Linked DNA regions of Homo sapiens: region 1 is linked to region 2. The links come from fine-mapping of genetic effects on gene expression. Tissue or cell type: whole blood. Region 2 holds a variant in brackets; the other region holds the start of a gene. All regions are shown on one strand. Distances are from middle to middle.

Evidence for each region. PIP is the estimated chance that this variant, and not a neighbour inherited with it, causes the effect.
Region 1: EXOC3L2 starts here. The variant in region 2 is fine-mapped to the expression of EXOC3L2 in whole blood (INTERVAL, PIP above 0.99).

The regions. Positions count from the first base shown.
Region 1 is chr19:45,239,798-45,249,548 of GRCh38, forward strand. It overlaps EXOC3L2 (exocyst complex component 3 like 2), which reads right to left and starts at 5,610. Exons shown (of 12, transcript NM_001382422.1): 1 at 5,544-5,610. RefSeq lists an enhancer at 5,304-6,300.
Region 2 is chr19:45,206,585-45,217,804 of GRCh38, forward strand. It overlaps EXOC3L2 (exocyst complex component 3 like 2), which reads right to left. Exons shown (of 12, transcript NM_001382422.1): 10 at 10,944-11,099; 11 at 9,489-9,610; 12 at 5,786-6,773. The coding sequence ends at 6,485. It also overlaps a transcript of BLOC1S3 not described here. Among named protein-coding and RNA genes, the nearest start is that of EXOC3L2, 33 kb to the right of the region's middle. RefSeq lists enhancers at 9,328-9,862, 10,485-11,180, 11,181-11,220. The variant A/G (reference allele first, on the strand shown) is at 6,355.

The DNA.
Region 1 (9,751 bases), 32 kb after region 2:
GAGTGAGCCACCTCTGCTGGCCTGGAATATTCTCTATCTTAAGTTGATCCTCCTACTCCGTGGAGAAACAGGCTGAGAGGGGGGAAGGCTCCCTCCCAAGATGACACAGTCAGTCAAGGGCAGAGATGATATGGGGACTCAGGCCCTACCATCCACCCAGACGTCCAGGGCAGACTCCTGAGCACCTGCCTACACCCCCTCATCCCCTTCATTTCTCCTGTTTGATTTGTACCCTTGTCATCTCTCCCTCATTCATCTCTTCAGCAAAAACTTATTGGGAAATGTCTAGAATAGGCAAAGCCTAATTTTTTTTTTTTTTTTTTTTGAGACTGGGACTCACCCTGTCACCCAGGCTGGAGTGCAATGGCCCCATCATAGTTCACTGCAGCCTGAAACTCCTGGGCTCAAATGATCCTCGTACCTCAGCCTCCTCAGCAGCTGGGACTACAGGTGTGTACCACCATGCCCACTTAATTAATTAATTAATTTATTTATTTATTTATTGAGACAGGGTCTTGCTATGTTGCCCAGGCTGGTCTCAAACTCCTGGCCTCAAGGGATCTATCCACTTCTGCCTCCCAAAGTGCTGGGATTACAGGTGCAAATCACCTCGCAGGTCTCTAGGCAAATCCTTAGAGACAGAAAGGAGACTGACAATAGGACTGGAGAGAACGGGGAATGGCGAGTGGCTGCTAATGGATGCAGGGTTTCCTTTTGGGGAAAGGAAGACACTCTGGAACTAGATAAAGGTGATGGTTGTACAACACTGTGAATGCATTAAGTGCCACTTAATTGTATGCTTTTAAAATGGCTTAAGGCCAGGCGTGGTCGCTCATGCCTGTAATCCCAGCACTTTGGGAGGTGGAGGCAGGCAGATCACCTGAGGTCAGGAGTTCGAGACCAGCTTGGCCAACATGGTGAAACCCCGTCTCTACTAAAAATAAAAAAAGTAAAAAATTAGCCGGGCGTGGTGGCATGCACCTGTAATCCCAGCTACTCGGGAGGCTGAGGCAGGAGAATTGTTTGAACCCAGGAGGCAGAAGTTGCGGTGAGCTGAGATCACACCACCGCATTCTGGCCTGGGCAATAGAGCAAGACTCAGTCTCAAAAAATAAAATAAAACAAAACAACTTACTAGGTATTAGCCATGGGCCCAGCCCTGTGCAGGCGTTAGGGACACAGCAGTGGCCAGGGCAGCCCCCATCCCTGCCATTACAGCTTCCTGAGTCCTGCCCATTCCATCTCCTAAGCCTCTCTTCAGTCTGCGCTCCCTCCTTTCACTCACTTCCCATAGCCCCTACCCCAAGCGGAACCCTTGCCCACTTCCCTGCCCTGGCCTCCTCCCTGGTCCCCAGCCTCTAGTCTTGGCACCTCCAGTCCGCCTTTGAGGACCTTGAAAAAGCGCAAACCAGGCCGGGTGCAGTGGCTCACGCCTGTAATCCCAGCACTTTGGGAGGCCGAGGCGGGCGGATCACAAGGTCAGGAGATCGAGATCATGGTGAAACCTCGTCTCTACTAAAAATACAAAAAATTAGCTGGGTGCAGTGGCAGGCGCCTGTAGCCCCAGCTACTCGGGAGGCTGAGGCAGGAGAATGGCATGAACGCGGAAGGCGGAGATTGCAGTGAGCTGAGATCGCGCCACTGCACTCCAGCCTGGGCGACAGAGCAAGACTCCATCTCAAAAAAAAAAAAAAAAAAAGAAAAGAAAAAGCACAAACCTGCTCTTCTCCATCTCCTAAGCCTTCCATGGCTCCCTAGTATCTTCAGGACAAAGCTGAGGCCTCTCACCACAGCCTTCATGCTCTGGCAGCTGCACACGTCACTAGTGCTGTCCCGTAGCCTCCTCCTTACCCCAGGAACCTCCAGGTTTCAGCATCTGCTGGTGCTTCTACATAGACGCCTGTTCTCCATGCTCCAGTCAGGACTTCAGGACTCACACTTCAGGACTCAGCCCCATGCCCCCTCCTCCAGGAAGCCCTCTGTGACCCTCAGGCTCCCAGTCCCTGGGTTCCCACACCTCACCTCTGCCTGCTCTGGGTCATCCCTGTCTGGGGACAGATCTGTGTCCCTTACTGGACTGCAAACCTCAGCAGGACAGGGCTGGGGCTGTCTCAGTCACCACTGTGTCCCCAGCTCCCAGCACAGGGCAGACACTCAGGGAATGGGTGCTAAACAGGAAATGAAGGAAGGAAAGTGGCAAGACAGTTCATTCCTTGTGTGGGGAGGAGGAGGGTGAGTCGAGCTGGAAGAGGTCACTAGGGAGCAGGCCACGCAGGGCTTTAAGTTCCTTGATAAGGGACAGGCTTTCTTCCAAGAGCCCTGCAGAGCCACAGATAGGTGCTTTTTAAAACAATGAAATAGTTCAAACATTCGGAAAAGTACAGAAGACAAGCTTAATAAACACTTCTGTGCCTACAATCCTAGCCACAGCTCACACAATCATTTGCTCTCTTAGTTCAGGTTTTTGTTGTTGCTTTTGTCTTTAGAGACAGGATCTCACTCTGTTGCCCAGGCTGGAGTGCAGAGGCGTGATCATGGCTGGCTGCAGCCTTGAACTCCTGGGCTCAAGCGATCCTCCCACCTCAGCCTCCCAAGCAACGGGGACATCCTGCTAATTTTATTGTTTAATTTTTTGTTATAGATGGGGTCTCGCTATATTGCCCATGCTGGTCTGGAACTCCTGCTCCTGGCCTCAAGCAATCCTCCCTCCTCGGCCTCCCAAAGTACTAGAATTACAGGCGTGAGCCACCATCCACTGCCCTGATTTTTGTTTTAAAGAACAAGCCAGGCGCAGTGGCTCACGCCTATAATCCCAGCACTTTGGGAGGCCGAGGAGGGAGGATCACCTGAGGTCAGGAGTTTGAGACAAACCTGGCAAACATGGTGAAACCCTGCCTCTACTAAAAACACAAAAATTAGCTGGGTGTGGTGGCGGGTGCCTGTAGTCCTAGCTACTTGGGAGGTTGAGGCAGGAGAATCACTTGAACCCAGGAGGCGGATGCTGCAGTGAGCCCAGACTGTGCCACTGCACTCCAGCCTAGGCAACAGAGCGAAACTCCATCTCAAAAAAAAAAAAAAAAAAAAAGAATTACAAATGCGTGCAGCCTCCTCCTGCCACCTCTCCTGGTCCCACTCGCTCTGGCCTTCTCCTAAGGAATCCAGCATCCAGAATGAATGTGCTGTTTACCCGTCCAAGTAGATTTTTATCCCATGCTCCATAGACTTGTATCCAGAAATAATATACTGTTCTACATGGTTTCAAACTCTCTATAAATGGTATCATACTATTTGTATCTTGCAACTTGCTTTAAAATTTATTTTTTTGCTCACGTTATGAACTTGTGAGAATTTATCCATGTCTAGCCATACAGCTCCAGTTCATTTAAGTGCTATGTAATATTCCACTATATGAATTGTGTAAAGGGTCAGATGTTCACTTGTTCTTCTATTGCTGGACGTGTAGCTTGTTTGTCACCACGACAGGGTTCTGAGCAGGTCAGGACAGGGTCAGGATTATGCAGACGTGCGGGGGTGGACAGGAGGCCTGGGAAGAGGGTGGTGTGCAAAAGGCCTGGGTTGCCTAGGTTATGAGTAAGAGCACCCCTTTCCATGATGGGGAGGCCCCTTCTTTCTTTCCCTGTTTCAACCCCTGAGCTGCTGCTTCTCAACCCTCCAGTTCCTAGAAACGCTCTCGGACCTCCTTCCGGTCTCCATGGGCCCCCGCCCCCACAGGAGGCAGTCACCATGACGACCCCTTGCCTGGAGCCCCCATGGCTGTGTGCAATAGATACTCCCCCATGCACACACATTATTTGCACACTCATTTCTCTTCTATTTTATTTTATTTTTTCAGATGGAGTCTCGCTCTGTCACCCAGGCTGGAGTGCAATGGCGCGATTTCAGCTCACTGCACCTCCACCTCCAGGGTTCAAGCGATTTCTCCTGCCTCAGCCTCCCAAGTAGCTGGGACTACAGGTGCCCACCACCACGCCTGGCTAATTTTTGTATTTTTAGTACAGATGGGGTTTCACCATATTGGCCAGGCTGGTCTCGAACTCCTGACCTTGTGATCCGCCTGTTTCAGCCTCCCAAAGTGCTGGGATTACAGGTGTGAGCCACCGCACTCTGTCCTTCTCTTTTATTTTTTAGACAGTCTCACTCTGTCACCCAGGTTGGAGTGCAGTGGCATGGTCTCGGCTCACTGCAACCTCTGCTTCCCAGGCTCAAGCAATCCTCCCACCTCAACCTCCCGAGTAGCTGGGAGTACAAGTGCAAGTCACCACACCTGGCTAATTTTTGTATTTTTAGTAGAGATGAGGTTTCGCCCTGTTGCCCAGGTTGGTCAACTCCTGAGTTCAAGCGATCCACCTGCCCCAGCCTCCCAAAGTGCTGGGATTACAGTCATGAGCCACCACACCCAGCCTTGATTTCTCTTTCATCCTCTGAACTGGCATCCACATGCCTCATCCCAAAATGGCTCCATCATCCCCCCTCCACCCCATAACTGTCTCCATCTTCCTCTCAAAATTTCAGGCTCGAATTTCCCTCCAATTGAAGTCAACCTTGCCCGGACTACATCTGACTTTCCCCCACCTGGCTTCAATATCGCCTCCAAACTGGATCCAACATCCCCAAACCTGGCTGCAACATTTTCCCAAAACTGTCTCCGACGTCTTTCCCCTTCCTGGCTCCAACACCCGCCTCTGCAAACTGGTGCTGACATCCTGCCCCCTCCAACCCTCTGTCTGCCTCCCAGTGCCCAGCCCCTGACTCACTTCCGAGGCATCCCTCAAGCCCCCAGCCTCTCAGGCCCGCAGGATGTCTTGGCCACCAGAGCTTCCCTCTTTGAGCCCCTCCTCCTCTTCCTCACTGCCAGCCTTTTCCCCGGAGTCCCTAACCTTCTGCAGCGGCCCTGACCTCGGTTTGCGGAATCCATCACCTCCAACGCTCAGCATCTGTATTAGAGAACGGTCTTTCCATATGGCATGTCCCCAAGCCCAACCCCAACCAGTGCAACCCCAATCTAGTCCTTGACCCCAAACACAATCCTGTCATCAGCCCAGACCACTGCAAGCTCATCCACATCTCCAATCCCAACCTGATCTCGGTCTCTCCTGCTTGATCTCAATCCCTACCTGGTCCCTGTCTCCCATCTCCGAGACCCCATCTCTTGGGATAGAACAAATACCCGATCCTTCCTGGCCTCAGTCTTCCCGCCCAGACTCGCAGGACATTCGACCCAATGTCATCTCATCTCTATTCTCCTTTGGTGGCACCAAGGTTTCTAATGCTCCCTTGCACCCTTTGTGGACCCCGCGAGTCCTCAAATTCTCCCCTGCACCCTCCTCTCATTTTCATCTCCTTTCTGCCTTCTCGCCAGCACCCCTCTGGAGTCAGGCCCCAGATTCTCTCTTTGCCCCCAGCCTCTGCTGGGTTCAAGGTACAGGTTCTCATCAGCTCTGGTCCAGTGCAACTAAGGGCAACTGTTTTCCCAGTTGCCCTGGGGAAGGGGGACCCCTTCCCCCTGTCCCCAGCACACTCACCTCTGTCCTCCTGCCCGTCCTTCTGTTCCCGCTGCTGTCCTGTCCCCAGGCTACTTCAGCCAGGACTGCTGGGAGCTTGGATCTGAGTTGGGGGGGTGCTCGGAGGAGGACAATTTCCTGTCAGGAAACCCCTCCCTCTCTGGGGCCAGGGGCGGGAAGGACTCATTATCTGTCTGCCCTTTTAGGCCAGGCTGCGGTTGGGCTGGGAAGGCCGAGGCCCACAGCTGGGCCCCCACCCTCACCCCCGCTCCAGGCCGGAATCCGCCCACTCCTGCATGCTCTTCACGCCTCCCAAGGTGACAACACCATCCTGGGCGCCCCGGGGAGACACCCCAAGCTGGACGCCAGCCCAGAGCTGCTCTCCAGCATGGGCAAGCCCCGAGGCCTTAGAATGAGAACCGGGGGGCAGGCACGCATCTCTCTAGAGTTCCCTGCCACGGGCTGAAGACCAGGAGGGAAGTTTTGCTGGGCCCAGGGGCTGGGGAGGGGGACCTATGGAGGAGGGCACTGGACATGGCTTTGGAATTGTGGTTCTCTTTGTCTAGAAGCCCCTGTACCCAGGTCTCTGCATGAGGCCCTCCTTTTCATCATCCCAGTTCCAGCCCCACAGTCTCTTCCTCTGTTCTCCACTGTCCCGTCTCACAGAGTCGTCACTCTGCTTTGTCAATTTATTTTTCTTTTTTTTTTTCCTGAGACAGAGTCTTGCTCTGTTGCCCAGGCTGGAGTGCAGTGGCGTAACAATAGCTTACTGCAGCCTGGATCTCCCAGACTCAAGAGATCCTCCCACCTCAGCTTCCTGAGTAGCTGGGACTACAGGCATGCACCACCATGCCCAGCTAATTTTTGTATTTTTTGTAGAGACACGGGTCTCATTAGGTTCTCCAGGCTGGTCTCAAACTCCTGGCCTCAAGCCATCCTCCTGCCTCGGCTTCCCAAAGTGCTGGGATTACAGGCGTAAGCCACTGTGCCCAGCCTGTCAATTTCTTTATTGCACCTTCTACAATCTGAAATTATCAGATGCAACTGGATTCCTTGCAGATAAACTCAGCAAAGCTCACTTTGTTGATCCTGTTCATCTTTATAAGCCTAGCTGCGTGCCTGGCCCTCAGTAGTCAAGATTTAAATGAATTTAAATGAAGCTGAGGGTTGGAGGTGGGTTTGGAGATGGACTTCCTGCTAGAGTTGGGATGCCAAGTGAAGTGAGGGCTGGGGCTGGAGCTGGTGCTGGGTGGGGTTGGGTATGAGAGTCAGGGTTACTTTAAAAGGCTAGGGCCATGTGTGGTGGCTCATGCCTGTAATTCCAGCACTTTGGGAGCCAAGGCAGGGGGATTGCTTGAGCCCAGGAGATCAAGACCAGCCTGATAATATAGCAAGACCCCGTCTCTACAAAAAAAAAAATTTTTTTAATTAGCCAAGTGTGGTGGCACGCTGTAGTCCTAGTTACTAAGGGAGCTGAAGTGGGAGGATCACTTGATCCTGGGAGGTGGAGGCTGCAGTGAGCCATGATCTCGCCACTGCGCTCCAGCCTGGGTGACAGAGAGAGACCCTGTCTCAAAAATTAAGAAAAAAAAAATTTTTTTTAAATAAATAAAACTGGGCTGGTTGCAGTGGCTTATGCCTATAATCCCAGCACTTTGGGAGGCCAAGGTGGGTGGATCGCTTGAGGTCAGAAGTTTGAGACCAGCCTGGCCAAACTGATGAAACCCTGCCTCTACTAAAAACACAAAAATTAGCCAGGTGTGGTGGTGCATACCTGTAATCCCAGCTACTCGGGAGGCTGAGACGGAAGAAATCGATTGAACCCAGGAGGCAGAGGTTGCGGTGAGCCGAGATTGTGCCACTGCACTCTCCGGCCTGTGAGACAGAGTGAGACTCCATCTCAAATAAACAAACAAACAAATAAATAAATAAGATAAACTGTGTTCAAGTGCTCAGGCACAGCCTGAGGGGGATGCGTGATCACTGGCCTAGGCAAAGTCCAGGCTGGGATCAGGGTTGGGGTCAACATTAGGATCGGGGGCTGGGCTTAGGGATCACAGCTCCCTCCTGGATCCAAGGGTTAAGATTCAAAGGTCTGAATGCCCCAGTTGAAGGAATGAATTCACCAGACATAGGTTGTGGAGGAAGGGCTAGCTGGATGACCAGGTCGGGAGGCAGAGGAACAGGCCTTGCCCCCCAGCTCGGCCTCTGCACCGCGGACCCATGGTCAGCAGTGGCCCATCATGTACTGGGATCGTGCAGGATTTCCACCCCGCCTTATTTATTTATTTATTTATTTATTTATTTAGAGACGGAGTCTTGCTCTGTCGCCAGGCTGGAGTGCAGTGGCGTGATCTCTGCTCACTGCAACCTCCGCCTCCTGGGTTCAAGCAATTCTTCTGCCTCAGCCTCCCGAGTAGCTGGGACGCAGGCGCTTGCCACCTGCAAGCGCCCGGCTAATTTTTTGTATTTTTTTTAGTAGAGACAGGTTTTCACTGTGTTAGCCAGGATGATCTCGATCTCCTGACCTCGTGATCTGCCCGCCTCGGCCTCCCAAAGGGCTGGGATTACAGGCGTGAGCCACCGTGCCCGTCCCCCTCCTTTTTAAAAATTATTTTTTTTATTTTGATTTAGAGACAGGGTCTCACTATGTTGCCCAGGCTGGTCTCGAACTCCTGGGCTCAAGTGATCCTCCCGTTCTGGCCTCCCAAAGTACGGGGATTACAGGTGTGAGTCACCGCGTCCAGCCCCCTTTTTAAATTTTATTATTATTTTTTATTGAAATACAATTCACATACATAAGAGTCACCCTTTTCAAACAGAGTCCGGTAGGTTTTAGTATATTCACAAGGTTGCAGCAAGCGTCACCACTATTTAATTCCAGAACATTCTCATCACCCCAAAAAGAAACCTGGTACCCATCAGCAGTCATTTCTCATTCCCCAGCCTCCAACCCCTGGCAACCATTAATCTACTTTCTGTCTATGGATTTGCCAATTCTGAATATTTCATATGAATGGAAGCATACAGTAAGTGGTCTTTTGCGTCTGACTTCTTTCGCTAAACATGCTGTTTTCTTTTTTTCTTTTTTGAGACGGATTCTCACTCTGCCGCCCAGGCTGGAGTGCAGTGGCGCGATCTCAGCTCACTGCCAGCTCCGCTTCCCGGGTTCACGCCATTCTCCTGCCTCAGCCTCCTGAGTAGCTGGGACTACAGGCGCCCGCCACCGCGCCCGGCTAATTTTTTGTATTTTTAGTAGAGACGGGGTTTCACCGTGGTCTCGATCTCCTGACCTCGTGATCCGCCCGCCTCGGCCTCCCAAAGTGCTGGGATTACAGGCGTGAGCCACCGCGCCCGGCCACATGCTGTTTTCAAGGTTCATCCACTTTGCAGCCTCCCTCTCTGTAAGCCTCGGTCCCCCCACATCTGGGAAATGGGGTGGGGACGCTGTTGGGGAAGGGAGGGCAGGGGTGGACCCTGGAGTGTGTGGGGCGCGTGTAGGGAGGTGATCGGCTGCCCCCGTGTGGTGCACGGTAGAACTGCAGCTCTCAGCGCCAATGCAGGGAACGGGTTGGGGGCGCTCAGCCCCTCTAGCCTACCCCCAAGACCCCCACTTTCACCCTGCGGCGTCCCTGGGATCACAGTACGTCTAGAACACTACCCCGGAACTCCACCCTCTCTGCCACTGTCCCTGAGGCTCCTCGGGCCATATTTGCCAAATAGTAATAATAATGTCCCCACATATGAATTTTGAATCTGGTCCCCTGTGAAGCACTTTACTCAAAGATTCTCATTTATTTGTTAGCAGTAACATTAAAATAACAAATAAATATAAACAAATTGACAAATAAAAATAGTAGCAGCCTGAGGTTGCTGCTATTATTTTTCGGAGACAGGAAACCACAGTGGTTGAGAGAGGGTCCAAGTTCTGGAACTTGGGAGCACTTGGATTCAAATTGTAGCCCTGCCACTAATTTGCCGTGTGACCTTCAGCGTGTGACGTTTCTCCCTTCCTTGGGCCTCTGTTTCCTCATCTGCAAATGGGATTGATAAAGATGCTCCCTACCTCTTGGGGTGGCAGAAAGGAGAAACTGCTCAGAGCCTGGCACAAGGGCAACTGCCATGAGTCTGTGTTGCTCATAGTATCAAGCAGTGCTGTGCTTTCACAACCAGCTTTTGGCTGAGTGCAGGGTAGTCCCAGCACTTTAGGAGGCCGAAGTGGGAGGATC
Region 2 (11,220 bases):
AGCTGAGACTATAGGCGTGTGCCCCCACACCTAGTTAAATTTTTTTTTTTTTTTTTAATAGAGATGGTGTCTCATGTGCTGCCCAGGCTGGACTTGAACTCCTGGGCTCAAGTGATTCCTCCCGCCTTGGCCTCCCAAAGGGCTAGGATTATAGGCATGAGCCACTATGACTGGCTGGATTAATCAAGTAATTTTTTTATGATTCCATTTTATCTCTTTTGTAGGCTTATTAGCTATAGCTCTTTGTTTTATTATTTTATTTATTTATTTATTTGAGAGTTTCACTCTTGTCACCCAAGCTGGAGAGCAGTGGCACGACCTAGGCTCACTACAACCTCTGCCGCCTGGGTTCAACTGATTCCCCTGCCTCACTCAGCCTCCAGAGTAGCTGGGATTATAGGCGCCTGCCACCATGCCCAGCTAATTTGTTTTAATAGAGATAGGGTTTCACCATGTTGGCCAGGCTGGTCTTGAACTCCTGACCTCAAGTGATCCACCCTCCTCAGCCTTCCAAAGTGCTGGGATGACAGGTGTAAGCCACCGCGCCCAGCTATTTTATTTTTTTTGAGACAGAGTCTCACTCTGTTGCCCAGGCTGGAATGCAGTGGCACGATATCGGCTTAGTGCAATCTCTGCCTCCCGGGTTCAAGTGATTTTCCTGCCTCAGCCTCCTGAGTAGCTGGGACTACAGGTGCCCGACACCAAGCCCGACTAATTTTTGTATTTTTAGTAGAGATGGGGTTTCGCCATGTTGGCCAGGCTGGTCTCAAACTCCTGACCTAAGGTGATCCACCCGCCTCGGCCTCCCAAAGTGCTGGGATTACAGGCGTGAGCCACCGCGCCTCACCTGCCTTGTTTTTTTAATGGTCACTGTAGAGTTTATAGTCCACATCTTTAACTTCTCGCAGTCTACATTCAAGTGCTACTGCACTCCACACTCCAGTGTGGGTGACAGAGCGAGACTCTGTCTCAAAAAAAAAAAAAAAAAAAAAAAAAAAAAAACCTAGCTGGGCGTGGTAGCGCACACCTATAGTCTCACCTACTCGGGAGGCTGAGTCACGAGAATTGCTTGAACCCAGGAGGTGGAGGTTGCAGAGAGCTGAGATCACACCACTGCACCCCAGCCTGGGAGACAGAGCGAGACTCCATCTCAAAAAATTAAAAAAAATTTTTGCCTAGTGCTACACATAGGAATGTGCAGGTGCACACGCATACACCTGCATACACACACATGTGCACAGGTACACATAGGAGTGAGTAAAACCAGTGAAATTGGAAGATTAAGGTCTTAGAATTGAACTAATGTCAATGTCCTGTTTTGATGTTGTATTACAGTTATATAAGATGTTAGCATCAGGTAAGTGGATGAAGGGCAAACAAGACCACCATGTACTTTTTTTTTTTTTTTGAGATGGAGTCTTGCTGTGTCACCCAGGCTGGAGTGCAGTGGCGAAATCTTGGCTCATCGCAACCTCTACCTCCTGGGTTCAAGCGATTCTTCTGCCTCAGCCTTCCAAGTAGCTGGGATTATAGGCACCTGCCACCACGCCCAGCTAAGTTTTGTATTTTTAGTAGAGACGGGTTTTGCCATGTTGGCCAAGCTGGTCTCGAACTCCTGATCTCGTGATCTGCCCTCCTTGACCTCCCAAAGTGCTGGGATTACAGGCATGAGCCACCACACCCAGCCTCTCTTTTTGTAACTTCTTATGAATCTATAATCTCTTAGAAATAAAAATAATCAGTCAGGTGCCATCGCTCATACCTGTAATCTCAGTACTTTGGGAGGCCGAGGTGGGTGGATCATTTGAAGTCAAGACTTTGAGACCAGCCTAGCCAACATGGCAAAACGCTGTCTCTGCTAAAAATACAAAAATTAGCTGGGCGTGGTGTCGGGCGTGGTGGCTCACGCCTGTAATCCCAGCACTTTGAGGCCCAGGTGGGCAGATCACCTGATGAGGTCAGGAGTTCGAGACCAGCCTGACCAACAGGGTGAAACACCATCTCTACTAAAAATACAAAAATTAGCTGGGTGTGGTGGTGGGTGCCTGTAATCCCAGCTACTTGGGAGGCTGAGGCAGGAGAATCACTTGAATCCAGGAGGCTGAGGTTGCAGTGAGCTGAGGCTGTGCCATTGCACTCCAGCCTGGGCAACAAGAGTGAAACTATCTCAGAAAGAAAAAAAAAAAAGCCCACAAGTATTTGGAAAGTAAATAACCCAGAAGTCGAAGAAGAAATCAAAAGAGAAAGTATAAACTACATAAAACTCAATGAAAAAAAATAACATATCAAAATACATGACATGAGATAAAGTAATGCTTAGAAAGACATTGATAGATTTTTAAATGCTTAATTAGAAAAGAGGAAAAGGAGGACTGGGGAGACGGTGGTCAAAGGATACAAATTTCAGTTAGGAGGAGTAAGTTCAGGAGATCTATTGCACAACATGGTGACTACAGTTTTGTTTTTTTTTTGTTGTTTGTTTGAGATGGAGTCTCTCTCTGTTGCCCAGGCTGGAGTGCAATGGTGCTACCTCGGCTCACTGCAACCTCTGCCTCCCGGGTTCAAACCATTCTCCTGCCTCAGCCTCCTGAGTAACTGGGATTACAGGCGAGCACCACCATGCCCGGCTAATTTTTATATTTTTAGTAGAGATGGGGTTTCACCATGTTGGCCAGGCTGGTCTTAAACTCCTGACCTCAAGTGATCCGCCCACCTTGGCCTCCCACAGTGCTGGGATTACACGCATAAGCCACTGCGCCTGACCAACTACAGTTAATAACAATGTATTGTATACTTGAAAATTTCGAAGAGAGTAGTTCTATTTCTTTATTTTATTGTTATTATTGTTTTTTTCTGAGACAGTGTCTTGCTCTGTCGCCCAGGTTGGAGTGCAGTAATGCAATCTCGGCTCACTGCAAGCTCCGCCTCCCGGTTTCACTCCATTCTCCTGCCTCAGCCTCCCGAGTAGCTGGGACTACAGGCGCCTGCCACTACGCCCAGCTAATTTTTTGTATTTTTAGTAGAGACGAGGTTTCACCGTGTTAGCCAGGATGGTCTCGATCTCCTGATCTCGTGATCCGCCCGCCTCGGCCTCCCAAAGTGCTGGGATTACAGGCGTGAGCCACCATGCCCGGCCTATTTTATTTTTTTTGAGGCGGAGTTTCGCCCTTGTTGCCCAGGCTGGAGTGCAGTGGCACCATCTTGGCTCACCATCTTTGCTCACCGCAACCTCTGCCTCCCGGGTTCAAGCGATTCTCCTGACTCAGCCTTCCAAGTAGCTGTGATTATAGGCATGCGCCACCACGCCCGGCTAATTTTTGTATTTTTAGTAAAGATGGGGTTTCACTGTGTTAGCCAGGATGGTCTCCATCTCCTGACCTCGTGATCCGCCCACCTCAGCCACCTCCCAAAGTGCTGGGATTACAGGCGTGAGCCATTGTGCCTGGCCAGAACTCTGTCTCAAAAACAAAACAAAACAAAACAAAATTATGCACATGAAAAACATCAGTCACAAAAGACTACGTTATGTATTTCCAAATGTGAAAAGTCCAAAATAGGTAGATTAATAGAGACAGAGAGATTAGTGTCTGCTTAGGGCTAGAAAGTTACTAGGGAGATTGGATATTAACTACAAATGAGTATGAGGTTTCTTTATTTAAAATTTTTTTATTGTGCTGAAATATACATAAAATTTACTATTTTAACTTTTTTTTTTTTTTTTTTTTTTTTTTTTGAGATGGAGTCTTGCTCTGTCTCTTAGGCTGGAGTGCAGGGGCACGATCTCGGCTCACTTCAACCTCTGCCTCCTGGGCTCAAGTGATTCTCTTGCCTGAGCCTCCTGGAGTAGCTGGGATTATAGATGCGCCACCACGCCTGGCTAAGTTTTGAATTTTTAGTAGAGATGTGGTTTCTCCACGTTGGCCAGGCTGGTCTCGAACTCCTGACCTCACATGATCCGCCCACCTCGGCCTCCCAAAGCGCTGGGATTACAGGTGTGAGCCACCTCACCCGGCCACTTTTTTTTTTTTCTTTTTTAATGAGACAAGGTCTCACCTATCATCTAGGCTACAACGCAGAGGCACAATCACAGCCAACTGCAACCTTGAACACCTGGCTTCAGGCGATCCTCCCACCTCTGTGTCCCAAACTGCTGTGTGAGCCACTGTGCCCAGCCAAAAGCTGTTTTTCAATGGAGGACCAACATCTGAAAAGTACATTGACAAACTGAGGCTCTTATATGTTTAATTCAACGCCTACAGGGCAGTGGCAGTGGCTCACGCCTGTAATCCCAGCACTTTGGGAGGATGAGGCAGGAGGATGGCTTGAGGCCAACCTGGTCAACATAGTGAGACTCTGTCTTTACAAAACAAATAAAATATTAGCTGGGTGTGCTGGCACGAGCCTGTAGTCCCAGCTACTCAGAAGGCTGAGGTGGGAGGATCACTTGGGCTAGGAGGTAGAGGCTGCAGTGAGCTATGATCGTGTCATTGCACTCCAGCCTGGGCAACAGAGCAAAGACCCTGTCTCTAAAAAATAAATAATAAATGTCTATGGACTGCACAATATTGTTGATTCCTCAACTCCTCTCTTGCTCTTTTGCATATTGGCAACATAAAAAGTGTCATTTTCGGGCTGGGCACAGTGGCTCATGCCTGTCATCCCAGCACTTTGGGAGGCTGAGGCGGGTAGATCACTTGAGGTCAGGAGTTGGAGACCAGCCTGGCCAACATGGTGAAGCCCCGTCTCTACTAAAAATACAAAAATTAGCTGGGTATGGTGGTGGTGGAGGGGGGGCACCTGTAATCCCAGCTACTCAGGAGCCTGAGGCAGGAGAATAAATTGCTTGAACCTGGGAGGTGGAGGTTGCAGTGAGCTGAGATCGCGCCATTGCACTCTAGCCTGGGCGACAGAATGAGACTCTGACTGAAAAAAAAAAAAAAAAGAAAATGTCATTTTCAGAGGGCAAAGTGAGGAAGGTGCACCCTCAGGACATTCTTGCCTCAGCCTGGGGAAAGAGAGTTTAAGCAATTCCCCCAGAAAGGCACAGGAACCTCAGCCCAGAGAGGGGCAGCTTCCTGCCTCGGGTCAGGAAGCACAGCCTTGGGCTCCGAGAGTCCCTCGTCTCTACCTCCCCAAGTTCAAATGTGCATGCGTGAAGTTCCAAACCCAGCCCCAGTGCTAACCCCTGGCTGCCTCCTCTTTCTGACTTCTCAGGGAAAAAAAAAAAAACCACATACACACAAAAAATCCCACAAGTCAGGAAACATCCATCACGGGCTGTCCAGCCCAGGCCGGAGGGGCAGGAGTCAGCAGGGAGGTGACCTCAAGGTCTCCGTGGGGACTAGGATCCGGCGGGGCTGGGGGTGAGAGGCTGGAAATTTTCCCACCCCGAGACTTTCCTGCGTCAACCCAGGAGGGCGCCCTGGATGCCGCCAGCCCTGCCCCCAACCTCCTTCCTCTCCTGACAGGGCAGCTTCCCGGCTAAGGATGGATGGGGAGGGTGTGCCAAGATGGAGCCACCAGGACCAGGAATGGACAGGCACTTTGAGATTGACCAGACGAGGGACCCTGGCTCAGAGTGGCGAAGGCCTGGCCTCAGAGCCACACAGCCAGGAGGTGTACATGGGTTGGCGTCGCTCCCAGCACATGCAGCCTCCCTCTACCTCCACTACCCTGCCCAGGAGCTGGAGCCCAGCCCGGCCTTGGGTGTGTGAGAAGCCACTGGCCCGGGGCCCTGCTTCCCCGGTCCTTCCTCCCCACAACACACTCAGGACTCAGCCCTTCCTTGTGTTAAATAGAAACCTCTTTATTCTAAGTATCGAACGTTCCTTAATACATTGGATTGGGGCCAGACCTTGAGGTGAGGGAAAGGGGCGGGGGAGCTGGGATATTTCTGTAGAGACTTCCAGAACGACACTCACCACTCTGGGCTATGGCAGGAGGGGAGGTGCTGGGAACAGGCTTCATGGCCTTGGGAAAATGCTTTGTCTCTTTGGCCTCTGTTTCCCCCTACCTTTTTTTTTTTTTTTTTTTTTTGAGAAAGGGTCTTGCTTTGTTGACCAGGCTGGAGTGCAGTGGCACAGTCATAGCTCACTGCAGCCTCGAACTCCAGTGATCCTCCAGCCTCAGCCTCACCAGTAGCTGGGACTACAGGCACACACCACCGTGCCCAGCTAATTTTTTATTTTTTGTAGAGATAGGGGGCAGGTCTCACTATGTTGCCCAGGCTGGTCTTGAACTCCTGGGCTCAAGCAATCCTCCGGCCTCAGCCTCCCAAAGTGTTGGGATTACAGGCATGAGCCACCGTGCCTGGCGTTTGTTTCCCTTCTGTACAGGGAGTTTGGGGTTGGGTGA[A/G]AAGACATCTAAGGGTCTTTCTATCCCAGGGGTGTGTGGTCCCAGGCAGGGAGTCAGGAGGGGCGCCGTACGGGAGGTTGGCTTGTCAGCAGCATAGATGGGGTCACTAAGGCCGGCGGTTGGGTGACCCTCAGCGCTGGGCCCGAGGTCGCGCTAGAGACGGAGGCCGGGGCCGAGGCAGACAGGCCAAACTGGGCCTGGCCAGCCGGGAGAGGGGGAGGCGGCCCAGGAAGAGAGGGAGGCTGAGACAGAAAGATGGGCGGGGCACAGGGATGTCTGCAAAGAAGGCACGGTCCCGAGGGGGTGACAGGGCTCCCTCCTCAGAGAGTTCCAGGTCCCGGGCCACGGCCAGGATCTCCTGGCGGGCGGCTGTGTTGCGCAGGCCACGGATGTCGAGGAGGGCTGCCACGTGCTTCTGCCTGTGGGGAGAGGAACAGACAGGTGCATGCAGATCCCCAGCTCTAGACACACACCCAACCCAGCCGTGGACCCCACCTGACCCCCTCACCTATCCCAGAAATTGCCTGAGTTCTGGGGCCTCTGTGTCCCCTCCAGAGCCTTCCCTCCAATCAGCTCCCTTGCCCAGGCCCTCACCTCATACCAGCTCCCTCCAGAACTTCACTTCCAACCATCTCCAAATCCCCCTTACAACCAACCCCAGAACCAGCCCTGGGATCTTCCTTTTCACCCCAAGCCTCAGCTCGTGATTAAAATTCACCTTCTCAGCTGGGTGCCGTGGCTCATGCCTGTAATCCCAGCACTTTGGGGGGCCAAGGCAGGCGGATCACCTGAGGTCAGGAGTTCGAGACCAGCCTGGCCAACATGGCGAAACCCTCTCTCTACTAAAAATACATTAAAAAAAAAAAAAAGCTGGGTGTGGTGGCAGGCGCTTGTAATCCTAGCTACTCAGGAGTCTGAGGCAAGAGAATCCCTTAAACCTGGGAGGCAGAGGTTGCAGTGAGCTGAGATCGCGCCACTGCAGTCCAGCCTGGGTGACACAGCGAGACTCCATTTCAAAAGTAAAAAAAAGAAAGAAACCTTGTACCCCACTCCCCCTAAATCCTCAGCCCTAGGTACCTCCTAATCTCAAGCTCAACCCCCTAAACCCAACCCAGCTAGCAAACTCTTAAACTTAGCTACAGATTCAAGTTCTGACTCATGATCCAATATTCAAGTTCAGAAACTCCACATCAGCAAGAATACTGGGACTTCTTGGGACCCCATGGGACTCCAGGAATATGTGCCTTCCCAAGGACATGACCTTATCCCCCAGAATCAGAACTGACCACCCTGAATCAATTCCAGGACCCCCACCCTCAGTGCTGAAACTGAAACCCGCTCATGCCTCACTCCTTGTTTTTCTGGGGTTCTGTTTCTCTGAGTATGTCTGAGAATGTGTCTGCCCAAATAGCACTGCAAGGACTGGCGTTGCTCCGGCAGCCACCACCACTGCCACCACCATCCAGCACTGTCACATGGTGGTGTGGTGTGCTGATCTGGTACACTAGTTTTTTTGTGTGTTTGTTTGTTTGTTTGTTTGTTTTGAGACAGAGTCTTGCTCTGTTGGCCAGGCTGGAGTGCAGTGGCGCGATCTCAGCTCACTGCAACCTCCGCCTCCTGGGCTCAAGCAATTCTCCTGCCTCAGCCTCCCGAGTAGCTGGGATTACAGGAGTGTGCCATCACACCTGGCTAATTTTTGTATTTTTAGTAGAGACGGTGTTTCACCATGTTGGCCAGGCTGGTCTCGAACTCCTGACCTCAGGTGATCCACCTACCTCGGCCTCCCAAAGTGCTGGGATTACAAGCGTGAGCCACCATGCCCGGCCGATCTGGTGTACTAGTTTTAGAGCCAGTCTACTGCCTGGGTTCAAGTTCCACCTTTGCCACTTGCTAGGCGTGATATTTCAATAGCTTTAATTATACCCCTTACTTATAGGCCAAGCGCAGTGGCTCACGCCTGTAATCTCAGCACTTTGGGAGGCAGAGGCAGGCGGATCACCTGAAGTCAGGAGCTCAAGACCAGTGTGGTCAACTTGGTGAAATCCCATCTCTACTAAAAATACAAAAATTAGCCGGGCGTGGTGGCACATGCCTATACTTGGGAGGCTGAGGCACAATAATCTCTTGAACCCGGGAGGCAGAGGTTGCAGTGAGCTGAGATCACTGCACTTCAGCCTGGGCGACAAAGTGAGACTCTGTCTCAAAAAACAAAACAAAACAAACAACAACAAAATACCCCTTATAAAGTTGGCATGGGCTGGGCAACGGTGGCTCACACTTCCCCATTCGTGGGAAGCCGAGGCAGGCAGATCACTTGAGCCCAGAAGTTCGAGACCAGCCTGGGCAACATGGTGAAACCCATCTCTGCAAAAAATACAAAAAATTAGCTGGGCATTGTGGTGCATGCCTGTGGTCCCAGCTACTCAGAAGGCTGAGGTGGGAGGGCTGCTTGAGCCCAGGAGGTCAAGGCTGCAGTGAACCGTGATTGTGCCACTGCACTCCAGCCAGGGAAACAGAGTGAGACCCTGTCTCAAAAAAAAAAGAAAAAAAGTTGGCATGTAAGATGCTTATTTAGGTCTGAAATAAGAACTCATTGAGTGAGAACTGGAATTGTTACTATAGTCATGGATGATGATGATGATGATGATGATGATAAATTTCCCTAATAACCCTATGACGAGAATACTACTATCCCCATGGAACGGATGAGGAAACTGAGGCTCCGAGAAGGTCACCTACAAAGGAAGTGACCTGGCAGGAGTTGAATGCCGCCTGCGCCTGCCGCTGTCCCAGTGCGTGTGCGCCCGTGTGCCCTGCGTGTCCCTGAGTCCCCTGCGGCTCCCCTGCGGGCTGGCCCTTCCTGCCTCCAGGCAGCCCTGCGCCCCCCTGCCCTGGGCTTCCTGTGACCGCCTGTTTGTTTGTGAGCCCTGGTGGCGGTGGCGGCGGAGGCAGCAGCGGCGGCAGGAGAAGGAGGGAAATCTTATTAATAATGCCCTGGTTCCAGCAGGAAACGGCCGTCAGACACGCTCACCGGCTCCCTCCCTCAGGAGGCAGGAAGCACAGGGACGGATGCCAAGGCCGCCAGGAGACCTCGGCCAGGCACGGCGAGCCCTGGCCCAGGCGGGGTGTCTCACCTGATGTCTGGGTAGTCGCGCACCAACACTCCCACCTCCACCTGGATGCTGGGCGTGTCTTCCAGCTGCATGACTTCAGCCAAATGGGGCACCACGGCATCCAGCCACGAGGCCTGGGACTCCTGCAGGGGAGGGAGGGTGCGGGGTCACACCCTCCCAAGATTGACCCTGCCAATTCCTGCCCCTCCTGGCTTGTTATACCATCTCTAAAATGTAGCAGAAACCAGGGGTGGTGGCTCAAGCCTGTAATCCCAGCACTTTGGGAGGAGGCCGAGGCGGGTGGATCACTAGAGGTCAGGACATCGAGACCAACCTGGCCAGTATGGTGAAACCCCATCTCTACTAAAAATACAAAAATTAGCCAGGCGTGGTGGTGCACACCTGTAATCCCAACTACTCAGGAGGCTGAAGCAGGAGAATCACTTGAAATCGAGAGGCAGAGGTTACAGTGAGCGGAGACTGCACCACTGCACTCCAGCCTGGGTGACGGAGCGAGACTCTGTCTCAAAAATAAAGAATAAAAATAAAAATAAAAAATAAAATGTAGCAGAAGACATACTATGGCCACATTTGAGAAAAATCCATAATATAATCTCCTCCCAGTTTTGCAGGTAATTTGGAACTCTGGGAAACATCTCCAAACCTCTTCCACGTCTGCAAAATCTTGCCTTTGCGGGGATGGAGACTGGACAAAGTGTACAAGGAAGCTCCCTGCATTCTTTCTTACATCTGCATGTGAATCTACAATTATCTCAAAAATTTTCCAAAGAAAACATTCCAAGGACTCCGGGCTTGGAACTCCAAGAAGAGCGACTGAATGAGGCCCTTCCAGCCCAGCTGAATACAACTGGGTACAAATAAGATCTGGCGGTTTTTAATTCCAGGGTTTAGAAATGTTAGGATTTCTGTGTTTCTGTTGCATGTAGTTTCTCTGTACGTTCATGGAGTCTTTTTTTTCTTTTTTTTTTGAGACAGAGTCTCACTCTGTCCTCCAGGCTGGAGTGTGGTGGCAGGATCTCGGCTCACTGCAACCTCCGCCTCTTAGTTCAAGCGATTCTCCTGCCTCAACCTCCCAAGTAGCTGGGATTACAGGCGTGAGCCACCACACCCGGATAATTTTGGTAATGCAAGGAGTTTTAACTCTGAGCCAGGCACTGTCCAAAGCACTTAACAGGAATTAACCAATCTGATCCTCAAAACAATGGATAGGGACCATTATTCGCCTTATTTAACAGCCGAGGAAAGCGCCCAGAGGCGAGTTCTCAGAGCAAGAAAGCCAGGTTTTAAGTGCAAAGGGTGTCGGTCAAAGTTACTGGTTGCTATTGACCCGAAGTTGGGTGAGAGTTTCTGTCCTGAGCTCTGCCCCTCTCCCCCTGGCTTTTGGGACCTGAGATTCTCGGAAGCCAAGCCTTGTCCTGGTTTCTGAAACACCCCCAACCGCGTCCCGACACTGACCAGCCGCCGGAACAGCCTCTGCAGTTGCGCCGCGTCCTCCCGGAGCCTGCCGGCCACGCGGCTGCGGGTCCGCGCCGAGCTGCAGCGCAGGCGCCCACGGAGCAGGGGCCGCACGTACTCGACCAGCGCCCGCCGGTGTAGCTCGGCTACCAGCGCCTGGAGGCGGAGGAGGGAAACCCGAGGGGTGTGAGCCATGCCCCACGGACTCCCATCCCGCCAGTCTGAAGGCCACCCCCGCCCCACTCGCCCACATCCACTCCGGGCACCCATGGGCACC